Linked DNA regions of Homo sapiens. The protein of the gene in region 1 purifies or fractionates together with the protein of each later gene. This does not show direct contact. Each region holds a gene or a part of one and is shown on either strand. Other genes may lie near its edges. The genes, in order: MINPP1 and C1orf87.

What was found.
Region 2: the proteins of MINPP1 (region 1) and C1orf87 purify together in Homo sapiens (affinity purification with mass spectrometry; 2 studies listed by BioGRID and IntAct, with this or other methods). This does not show direct contact.

The regions. Positions count from the first base shown.
Region 1 is NC_000010.11:87,514,738-87,522,042, reverse strand, and holds part of MINPP1 (multiple inositol polyphosphate phosphatase 1 isoform 1 precursor), read right to left. Parts: intron 7,283-7,305; coding exon of another isoform or gene 7,253-7,282; exon of another isoform or gene 7,165-7,252; intron 1,008-7,164; coding exon 874-1,007; intron 1-873. UniProt on the Homo sapiens protein: Multiple inositol polyphosphate phosphatase that hydrolyzes 1D-myo-inositol 1,3,4,5,6-pentakisphosphate (InsP5[2OH]) and 1D-myo-inositol hexakisphosphate (InsP6) to a range of less phosphorylated inositol phosphates.
Region 2 is NC_000001.11:59,989,676-59,993,857, forward strand, and holds the end of C1orf87 (uncharacterized protein C1orf87), read right to left. Parts: intron 1,159-4,182; coding exon 998-1,158; 3' UTR 719-997; downstream 1-718.

The DNA.
Region 1 (7,305 bases):
GTAATCACCACAATCCAGTTTGGGAAAACTTCTACCACCTACAAAGTTCTCTGTGCTCAGCTGGGTGCAGTGGCTCATGCCTGTAATCCCAACACTTTGGGAGACCAACGGGAGAGGATTCCTTGAGCCCAGAAGTTTGAAACAAGCCTGGAATTGAGGTTCTATCAAAGGTTCAAGTCATGAAAAATTATTTTTAATTGAAGATTATAAATGTTAACAAAAGCTTTTTCTCTTTCAAAACAAAAACATTTTGCACATTCATAGCAGGAGCCACATAGAGTTCATAATTACACTAATTATAACAGCAAAAGATAGGAACTATCTAAATGCCCACTGACAAGAGTAGATGGTATATTCACATTATTGAATATTGTACTACAGTGAAAATGAACTACAGCTATATGCAATAATATGTTGAATATTAAAAACATAAAGTTGAGGGGGGAAACAAAGCAAGTCCCAAAAGACAATAAGCAGTATGATTCCAAGAAAAACTAAATATATTCTTTGGGCACCAATACATTCATAATATAAACTGTTTTAAAGAGGCGAAGGAATGACCAATACAAAATTCCAAAGAATAGTTTCTGGAGGAAAGGGAAGGGCAAGAGGAGGCAGGAAAATGGAATAGTTGAGGAACACATAAGTAAACAAATGCAATTTATTATGAATATTCTAGTTCTTGGGTAGAGTGGAAGGTTCGTATGTTTTATAATTTACATATATGTTATCGAATTCTTTTGTATCACATTATATTAAAATTTTTTTAAAACACAAGCAAAAACTATTTTTTAAAATTACTCATTATAAAAAAATTTCCAGAAGTTTAGTAGTAACTCAAAATGTACTTCACATTTTTTAGAAAGTTCTTACCTTTGTTTCTGTTCAACTGCTTTGTCCAAGTGCTGAAAGATATCCTGAAACAAGGTGCAGCTGGATCGACTGTTAATAGTATACCCATATCCTCTTTTCCAATATTGTTTCAGATCATTTAAATATTCTAATACCTAAAAAAATTCAAAAATAATTTCTAATATATTTTCAAAAATATAACAAGATTCCCTGATTTAATAATGATTCTCTAAGAAATGGTTACAATGTTTAATTACCATTCTGCACAAAATATAGTATTTGTCCTTTCCAGCATTTAAGAGTTGGTCCCTAAGGTTCATACCACAGAGAGATTTATGCTGCATCACAAATTTGGATTGGGGGAATGTAGATGCTGGTGTGCAAGAGCAAGCCAGTAAGTGCTCACAGCCAATCATCCAAGGTCAGGACAGCTCAAGAGAGTGGAGTAAGGACATGTGCTCACCTCTCCTTTCTTCTAACATTATATTAAGATGATATTATATTAATATTCTTCTTTATTCTTTCTTCTAAATGTCAAGGATACATTTAGAAGAAAGAATAAAGAAGAAGAATATTCATTAAAGCACAGAAAGATACCATAGGTGGATGAGAAATGTATAAGAATTTTGAGAAGGTAGAAGTCAAATAGAAAATGAGTTACTTTGGTTCATGTATCTGTTTGGTGAAAAAATAATAATAAAAGTGTACCAAGGATATGGGGAAATGGGTACTGTTGGAAGGAATGTATATTGGTATAGACATTCTAGAGGGCAAATTGGCAAAATCCATGAAAACACACATACCCTATGACCCATTTAATTCCATTTCTTATAAAGTGATATTCACAGAGGAACACCAGGGAGAATGTACAAGAATGACTTATAGTAGCACTGCTTATAGAAGCCAAAAAATCCCCAGAAACAACTAAATTCCAATAGTAGGTAGATGGTTAAATAAACTATGGTATACACATACTTCAGAATACTTTGCAGTTATCAAAAAGTTCTATATTATAGATTTCCATGTACTGACATGGAAAAATCTCCAAGACACAATGTTGAATAAGAACCCATTAAAAATAATACATACCCTATAATACCATTTATTACCAACACACACACACACACACACACTATACCTTTTATATTTCTAAGAATGATACAGATTATAAAAGTATAGAAAACGGTTTGAAACCTACCTATCACTGATTACAGTTATTAACCTCTGCTGAAAGGTCTGGAACCGGGAGCTGGTAATTAAGTAGCCTTTATCTGAGGGTTAAATTTTCCACTTACATATCATTTGATCATTTGCTCATGTAGAAGTGGAGAACTGAAATCTCTATCTAGAACTAAAACCTGTAGCTAAAACCACAACTAGGGGACTAAAATATGTAACCCAAAAGAGGTTCAAGATGACTACAATAGTCACAAACCTTTCTTCCCGAAAGAGCTCCTAGAGAAACTAAGTGCATGTCATAGTAAGTTTTAAGAGCAGGGGTGGGTCAGTGCCATATATAAAAACAAAACAAAAAATACATTAAAGGGGTGAGGAGGAGCTACTTGCTACACTAGCATTGCTGCCTACAATCTAGACTAGCACAGCACAATGGCAACTTGTGTCCCTTCCAAAGGTAGCAGTGTAGATATTTATTAATGAAGAAAAGGAGAACAGCTGAGGGAAAAAGGATGAATAAACGGGTTATAAATTGAAGGAAATGACATATTACATGAACGCCTTGAACGGGGCTCAGAGCAAAAGGTGACGCTGTCTCTTAGCTCAAGTATGACAGATGCATGAAAGGGTGAAGCCATAAATTTGCCAAGACCACTCCTGGTTTTGGAACCTGACAGGATTGAAAGGAAGCTGGCAAACCTGAGTGGCCTTGCCCTGGAAGACATTCATACAGATGATGGACTGGATTATTAATGATTGTATATATTCTTTTGATGTAAGGTATCCCTCTTCGAAAACCAGGGGCTGACCTGTGGTATTATGATATGTATATATTGGCTTTCGTCCACACTTCCTGGTTTGTAACTCCCATATCCCTTGTTGTAGTCTTTTGGTATAATGCTGGGTGTGTTAGGCCTCCAGGGCAGGCCTCAGGAAACAGAATCTCTCTCCTGCCTCCCTTTCACCTGTGCGGAGGCAGAACTCTAATCTTCCTGCCTTTCTGGGGGTCTTAAGATCCTGCCCTGAAAGGGTCCTGCCTCATATCCTGGGGGGAAGGAATACTTCCATAAAAACCCAAGAGGACTGGGTTTAGAGAGCTTACAGATAGCTGAACATGTGGAGCTTCCTGGAGGGTGGCATGCCCAGGGAGGACATGGAAGCTCCACGCCCCTTCCCCCATATCTCGCCCTACTCATCTCTTCATCTGTATCCTTTGTAACATCCTTTATAATAAACCAGCAAAAGTGTTTCCTTGAGTTCTGTGAGCTGCTACAGCAAATTAACTGAACCCAAAGAAGAGGTCATGGGAACGCCAACTTGAAGCCAGCTGAACAGAAGAGTACCGATGGGGCACTTGGGGACTGAGCCCTCAACCTGTGGGATCTAATACTACCTCCAGGTAGACAATGTCAAATCTGAACTGGAGGACACCCAGCTGGTGTCTCCTGCTTGGCGTGCAGGGGAAAGGCTCCCACACATTTGGTCACAGAAGTCTTCTGTGTTGATGATTGTGATGGTGGTGTGAGAGTAAAGGAAAAACACGGCTTGAGAGAGTCTGTCCTTACACAAAGGCAATGAAATCAAGAAGTTAACAAAGAGACGTAAACACTAAGAAATTTAAAAAGGAATTAGATAATAGTCTGTTCAATCTATTCAAATAATAAAATCTACTATTAGAAATAAAAAGGAGGCAACTGGAGATTTAAAAAATTCTCACATGCTTACCACTAAAACTTTATATTTAAAAAAAAAAAAGGGCCGGGTGCGGTGGCTCACGCCTGTAATCCCAGCACTTTGGGAGGCTGAGACAGGCGGATTGCGAGGTCAGGAGATCGAGACCATCCTGGCTAACAGGGTGAAACCCCGTCTCTACTAAAAACACAAAAAATTAGCCGGGTGTGGTGGCGGGTGCCTGTAATCCCAGCTGCTCGGGAGGCTGAGGCAGCAGAATGGCTTGAACCCGGGAGGTGGAGCTTGCAGTGAGCCGAGATCACGCCTCTGTACTCCAGCCTGGGTGACAGAGCAAGACTCTGTCTCAAAAAAAAAAAAAAAAGGCCAGGTGCAGTGGCTCACACCTGTAATCCCAACAGTTTGGGAGGCTGAGGCAAGTGGCTCCCTTGAGGTCAAGAGTTCAAGACCAGCCTGGCCAACATGGCAAAACCCCGTCTCTACTAAAAATACAAAAATTAGCCAGGTGTGGTGGCGGATGCCTGTGGTCCCAGCTACTCAGGAGGCTGAAGCATGAGAATCGATAATTCTACCAGACATACACCTTCAGAAACAGGTATACCTGTACCCCAATAAACATATACAATAATGTTCATAGCAACAAGGTTCATAATAGCCCCAAACTAAAAACAATGTCTACTGAAAAGATAATGAATAAACTGTAAAATATTCATATAATGGAATATTATACAGTAATGAAAATTAAAAATTGTAGCTATATGCAACCTCATAAATCTTTTTTCATTTTTAAAACTTTATTAAATTGTAATTTACATACACATGATTTAAATATACAGGCTGATGACTTTCGACAAATATAAACAACTGTATAACCTGCCCCCACCATGATAATACAATGACTTAATCGCCCCCAAGAAGTTACCGCTTGCCCCTTTGCTTCAATCTCCTCTAATACTCTGCTACAGGTACATGTTTTACGGAATCCTGAGAAATGTCTGTGACCTCATAATTCCCAATCCATTTGAGAAGAGGTATATTTTCCTGAAATTTGTAAACCTTTTCACAACACAACAGGTCAAGATCATTTTAAATTCCTCCCAGTTCAAATCCCTGCCTTCTAAGTAGCAATCTATAAATGGGAAGCTTTTTTTTTAACTTGTGTCGTGGGAGTTTGTTGTATGGATTACTTCATTACCCAGTTATTAATCCTAGTGCCCATTAGTTATTTTTCCTGATCCTCTCTCTCTTCCCATCCTCTGCCCTCTGAAAGGCCCCAGTGTATGTTGTTCCCCTCTATCTGTCCATGTGTTCTCACCATTTAGCTCCCAAATAAATCTTAAAAACTTAATGTTGAACAAGAGCTAGATACCAAAAGAAAAAAAACACACGCTGAGTAATTCCATCATTATAAAGTTCAAAAACAGATAAAGCTAAACTGTTTCTTAGGGAAAAAATAAATTAGTAAACAATAAACTACTGTAATAAAGAAAAAATTGAAAGCAAAAATACACAATTACGGAGAAATAATTTCAGAGAAGGAAAACACTTTTTAAAATCAAAAGATATATTTGCTTAATTCAGCAAATAATGGATAACATAAATGACTTTTATAGGTATATTAAATACCAAAACTAATCCCAGGAGAGAGAAAATCTAGATATACTTATTAAAGCAGACACAAATTGCAAAAAAGCTATCCTACAAATTAACTTTCTCCTTTGTGCCCCACTACACCTTTCATGGGCAGTCTGCAACTTATGATGGTTTGACTTAAAATTTTTCAACTTTACAATGGTTCAAAAGCAATACACTTTCAGTGCGCTCCTTGACTTACAACGAGGCTATGTCTGGATAAATCCATTGTAAGTCGTAAATGTACTTCCAACTTAAGATATTCAATCTACCATGGGTTTATCTGGATGCAACCCCACCATAACTTAAGGAGCATCTGAGTATACTTCTATCACTGTATAGACATCCTATTGTCTTGCAATGGTTTAGTTACATGTCTTTCATTCCTTGTGGCATTCTTTGAGGACAATATCTATCTTATGTTAGTGTCTTTAGTTCCAAGCAAGTGCTTGTCACAGAACGGAAACTCAAAAAATGCTTGCTGAAGGTACACAAAGTCCAGGATATCTAATTATCTCAGAATTTCATAAATGTCTATTAATTTTTAATTGTAAAAAACATTCTTGGCCAGGTGCGGTGGCTCACACCTGTAAACCCAGCACTTTGGGAGGGTGAGGCGGGCGGATCACTTGAGTTCAGGAGTTCGAGACCAGCCTGGCCAACATGGTGAAACCCCGTCTCTACTAAAAATACAAACATTAGCCGGGCATGATGGCACATGCCTGTAATCCCAGCTACTGGGGAGGCTGAGGCAGGAGGACTGCTTGAACGCAAGAGGCAGAGGTTGCAGTGAGCTGAGATTGGGCCACTGCACTCCAGCCTGGGCGACAGAGGAAGACTCTGTCTCAAAAAAAAAAAAAAAAAAAAAAAATTCTTAACAAAGAACTTTAAACACATAAAAAATATAAAACAGTAGTATAACGAACCTCTGTGTACTCATCCAACTTCAACAATAATCAACATTCAACCAATCCCATTTCAGCTTTGCTCCTACCACCACCACTGTATTATTTTGAAGCAAATCCCAGGTATCATTTTATTTCACCTGTAAATACTTCAGCATATAAACCTATTTCACAGTGAAAGTCCTAAGCAGGGATAAATTATTTTCTAACAAATTGCTGAAGTAAATAATAGAAAATACCTCAATCAAAAGACAACCTTAATTTTTAAAAGAAGAATTTAATTTCTTTTCACATGTAAAAAGAAACTATTATTCAATTAATTTAATAAACATGTATTTAAATTTTCAAGTCACAGTCATTTAAATTAGAAGTTCTTTTTTTTCCTTTTTTCCTTTTTTTTCTGAGACAGAGTCTTGCTTTGTTGCCCAGGCTGGAATGCAGTGGCACAATCTTGGCTCACTGCAACCTCCACCTCCTGGGTTCAAGCGATTCTCCTGCTTCAGCCTCCCGAGTAGCTGGGATCACAGGTGTGCACCACCACGCTTGGCTAATTTTTTAATTTTTAGTATGGACGGGGTTTCACCACATTGGCCAGGCTGGTCTCGAACTCCTAACCTCAGGTGATCCACCCGCCTTGGCCGCCCAAAGTGCTGGGATTACAGGCATGAACCACCACGCCCGGCCAAGAAGTTCTTTATTTACAAGGAAAAAAAGTACCTCTACAATAAAGAAATCAGGCAGGCACCATTGTAATCTAATGATCAAACATCACTGGCCAGGAGTGGTGGCTGATGCCTGTAATACCAGCACTTTGGGGGGCCCAGGCGGGCAGATCACCTAAGGTCAGGAGTTCAAGATCAGCCTGGCTAACATGGTGAAACCCCATCTCTACTAAAAATAAAAAAATTACCTGGGCATGGTAGCACACGCCTGTAATCCCAGCTACTGGAGAGGCTGAGGCAGGAAAATCACTTGAATCCGGGAGGCAGAGGTTTCAGTTAGCTGAGATTGCGCCACTGCACTCCAGCCTGGGCAACAGAGAGAGACACTG
Region 2 (4,182 bases), on another chromosome or scaffold:
AATGGATAGAAAGGGATGCTCAGAGGCCTTTCTGTTTGATTTTCCCCTTGACCTAACTTGTTCATTTTGTCTGGCACACAGATTGGAAACTCAGTACCCTGATCACCCAGTATTAGTGATGGTGCTGGGAGCACATTGTCTCTGAAGCTCCAGGCCAGTGTTTCTTCAATGAGCTCATGCTACCTGTATGGTGTGATACGTGTGTAACTGTGTGCTATGTGAGTGGTGCAAAGTCAGGGGGGATGTTAAGAACAGAAGAACTATGGGAGCTGATGGAAAGTTCCACCTGGTTTTCCTGTCCAGGCAGAGCAAAGGATGTTACCTATTCCCAAAACGCTTTGTCCCAAGGAGTCCTTCCTCAAAACTTCTATCTTGGACTTTTGGAAAATACCCCTGGAGACAGTGTAATGTTGTTTAGTTTTGTACTGCAGAAAATATTGGACTTGTTCAGAAAACCTCACTTGAAATGTTTCTTCTACTGCTTAAGATTAAGATAGTGTATTGGTAATACTTTTATTTTTCTTATGGTATGGAAATCCTTCCTAGAATAATGACCAGGAGAAGGGATGATTTACCTATCCAAAAATGATGTTCATAGGTCTACTAGGTTCCAGGCACTGTGGGGAAGTGGCAACATTTAATGTTTTTTTTACTATGTGGAATTGTGGGGTTTGAAACAACATAGTTTGATTAGCAATGTAGGAAAAAATCAAACATGTAATATTAATAATAAGTTTTATTAAAACAGAAGGAGATTCTAAGTAGCTGGGTTCTTGCCACATCAAAAGATAAAACTAGGTTTCCTCTGATCACTTTGAACTGCTTATGAGTGAGCATCATAGCCAGAAACTAAGTCCAAATCAAAAGCATCTACAATAGCTGCATCGGCCTCCACTCTGACAATGCCTCCGCCACTACACTTAGGCTGGGGAGAAACATGTGTCTGGGTAAAAAGGGAGATAAGGGAAACATCTGTTCTCACAATATGGGCTTGTTATCATAGCTCCTTTAAGTACCGCAGTGCTGGCTCCAAGAGCATATTTTCTCCCGAACGGAATCTGCGCAAGGCCTGGTCGATTTTCTGAGGGCTCAGGGACAGGTTGTAAATGAGATTGTAGTTGTGAATGAGGCGTCTGGCTCGTTCCTTCTCCAGAACTCCTGTGATTGGATTGGGTAGGAGGAAGGTTTTTTAAAGAGGATGGAGGGAAAACAGAGAAAACTATATATTAGCTTGAATGACTTCCAGGTAAAGACTAAATGCTAATACTTTGCAATTTTAAGCTTCTTAAAAATCAAGTGGCATATTAAAAAATATTTATAGCTGTGGGTATGCATCACAGATTTCAGGAAGAATCTGAGGGTGATTTCAGGGGAAAGAGAACAAGATGGGATCCAATAAGATCCATAGATAAATTCTAAAGCAATTTAGGCTTTTCTTTGTAACTTTAAAACTTGTAAGGCCAATTTTTGAAACACTGGGGGTGCCTAGCAAAAGTAACTTCTAATTGTCCTGAGTTCTTTTTATCTTGTTAAAGTCTCCAAACACATTCCTAAACATGCAGGGATTAAACAGCTTATTTTCAAAATGCATTTCTCTAAATGTATTTATAGATGTTCTTTGGTATCTGCAGGGATTAGGTCCATAATATTCCCCTCCCCAACAGTGATACCTACACCCATGGATGCTCAAGCCCCGATATAAAATGGAGTAGTATTTGCATGTAACCTATACACATTCTCCCATGTACTTTAAACCATCTCTAGATTACTTGTAACACCTAATACAATGCAATTGCAATGCAAATAGTTGTTATACTGTGTTTTAAAATTTGTACTTTTTTTTGTTGTCGTGTCATTATATTTTATTTCTATTTTTTAAAATATTTTTGATATGCAGTTGGTTGAATCTGTAGTTGCGGAATACAAAGATGCAGAGGACTGACTGTCCTGTGACTCCCTCCAGCTTGCTGTGCAATCACAGGTGAAGCATCTAACTTCTCATAGCTCAGAGTTTGAATCTGCGTAATAGAGGTGGTAATGTGTATGACTGCAGGATATGCTCTGGTACCCACACATTATATATGCCAATACCAATGTCAGTATGCTTTCCATGTTAAGATTGGATAGATTTTGATGGCTGTTGGGAGGAGTCGCAGTGTAGACCACGGCATCACTGAAGATCAATAACTCACTCATAAGCCCCTAATTGCAAATATCTATGTGTCAGATACTGTGCTTGGGAATACAGAAGATTTAGAGAATTTTTCTGCTACCTCTGGAAGTTCTCTGTCCCGTGGGGGAGAGAAGTTATTCAGAAAATTAACTGGGATACAACAATAATAATTAAACAATATTTAAATATAAAATTTACTATGTTCCAGGAACTGCTCCAAGCATTTCACCAATATTAACTAATTGAATCCTTACAATAACCCATTTCACAGAGGGCAAAACTAAAGCCTAGAGACTGCAAGTCTCTTGATTGCCTAAGGTTAACCACTACAGTACGTTATGGAATGAGGGAAAAGAGATTGCTTCAAGTAGGGGTCTATTTATTTATTTATTTATTTATTTATTTATTTATTTATTTTTTATTTTGAGACAGGGTCTTACTCTGTTGCCTAGGCTGGAGTACAGAGGCACGATCATGGCTCACTGTAGCCTTGATCTCCTGGGCTCAAGGGATCCTCCCACCTAAGCCACATGAGTAGCTGGGATTGCAGGTATGTGCCACCACTCTCAGCTAATATTTTTATTTTTTGTAGTGATGAAGTTTCACTATGTGCCCAGACTGGTCTGGAACTCCTGAGCTCAAGCAACCCTCCCCCTAATGCCTTTCAAAGTGCTGGGATTATAGGCATGTGCCACTGTGCCTGGCCTCTTTTACTCTCCTTCATATGTGCGAACTGTAAGAGTGATGGTGAAATTCCTTCCTAAAGAATCCAGAGGCAGTGCCTTGTCATTTTGCGGAAAGCCACTACTAGTCCATTAGAGTTGGGCAATGGTAGATACTTATCATCTCAGTTTAAGATACCAAATATTACTCATTTTTAAATGTGCAAGTACTATTGTGCATGGTGCCACCTTCTCAACTACTCTCTAATCGCTATTTTTAACAGTAGGCCACAATAGGTGGGGTCCTAATTTATTCTGTTCTATTCCAGTGTGTTCATTTTCTATTCTGTTCTGGTTTGTTCATTGCCTATTTATTGTCTGTCTCTCTTATTAGAACAGTGGTCCTTTCATTTATGTAAACCTCATTCTTTGAGTTGGCCAATTGCATCTTCGAAGTTTTCTGGATAGGATGGCTGCTCTCAGTCCTGTCTAGCTTTGCTTCCTCTGGCCATTTCTCCACACCCTGCCTCTGGAAATATAAGACATGGATTTGGAATAAGTTTATGACTGTAAGAAAAAAAATGAGTGAGGTGTGGTGGCATGCACCAGCTAAGGTGGGAGGATCATTTGAGCCTGGGAGGTCGAGGCTGCAGTGAGTTGTGATCATGCCATTGCATTCTAGCCCAGGCAACGGAGTGAGGCCCCTGTCTTAAATAAATAAATAAATACATAAATACATAAATACATAAATAAATGTCAAAAGAGGAAAGAAAGAGGGAAAGAAGGAAAAGAAAACAGAGGTAATTAAATTGTGTGAAAATCAATAAAATATTAAGTTCACACAGTATCCAGTACTAGTAATCACTCAATAATGTGAAATTTTACTATAGGATAATTATAATAATTATGTCATCAACATTATTTTAAAAATATATAAACAGTATATATGTAATTGCTTATTAAAATAGATAGCATTTAGTTTATATTTTAATTAAAAATTAAAAGTTATGTTAAAAAATACATCTAGGAATCACAGTAGTATTTTCTATCTTCTAAGCTTTACCATTGATAGAAGATGCCTAGAGTCAAACAAAAAGTCCACTGAATGAAATTTGTATCTGTCTAATTTACTCTGTCATTAGGGGATGCCCAGAACAGCTGCATAAAATAGCCCTTACAATCCATCTTAGTGTTGGAAAGCCTGTCTTTTCTAACCAGAACCAAAATAAAAAAATAATAAGAATCCTTTTTTTTTTTTTTTTTTTGAGATGGAGTTTTGCTCTTGTTGCCCAGGCTGGAGTGCAGTGGCATGATCCCGGTTCACTGCAACCTCCACTTCCTGGGTTC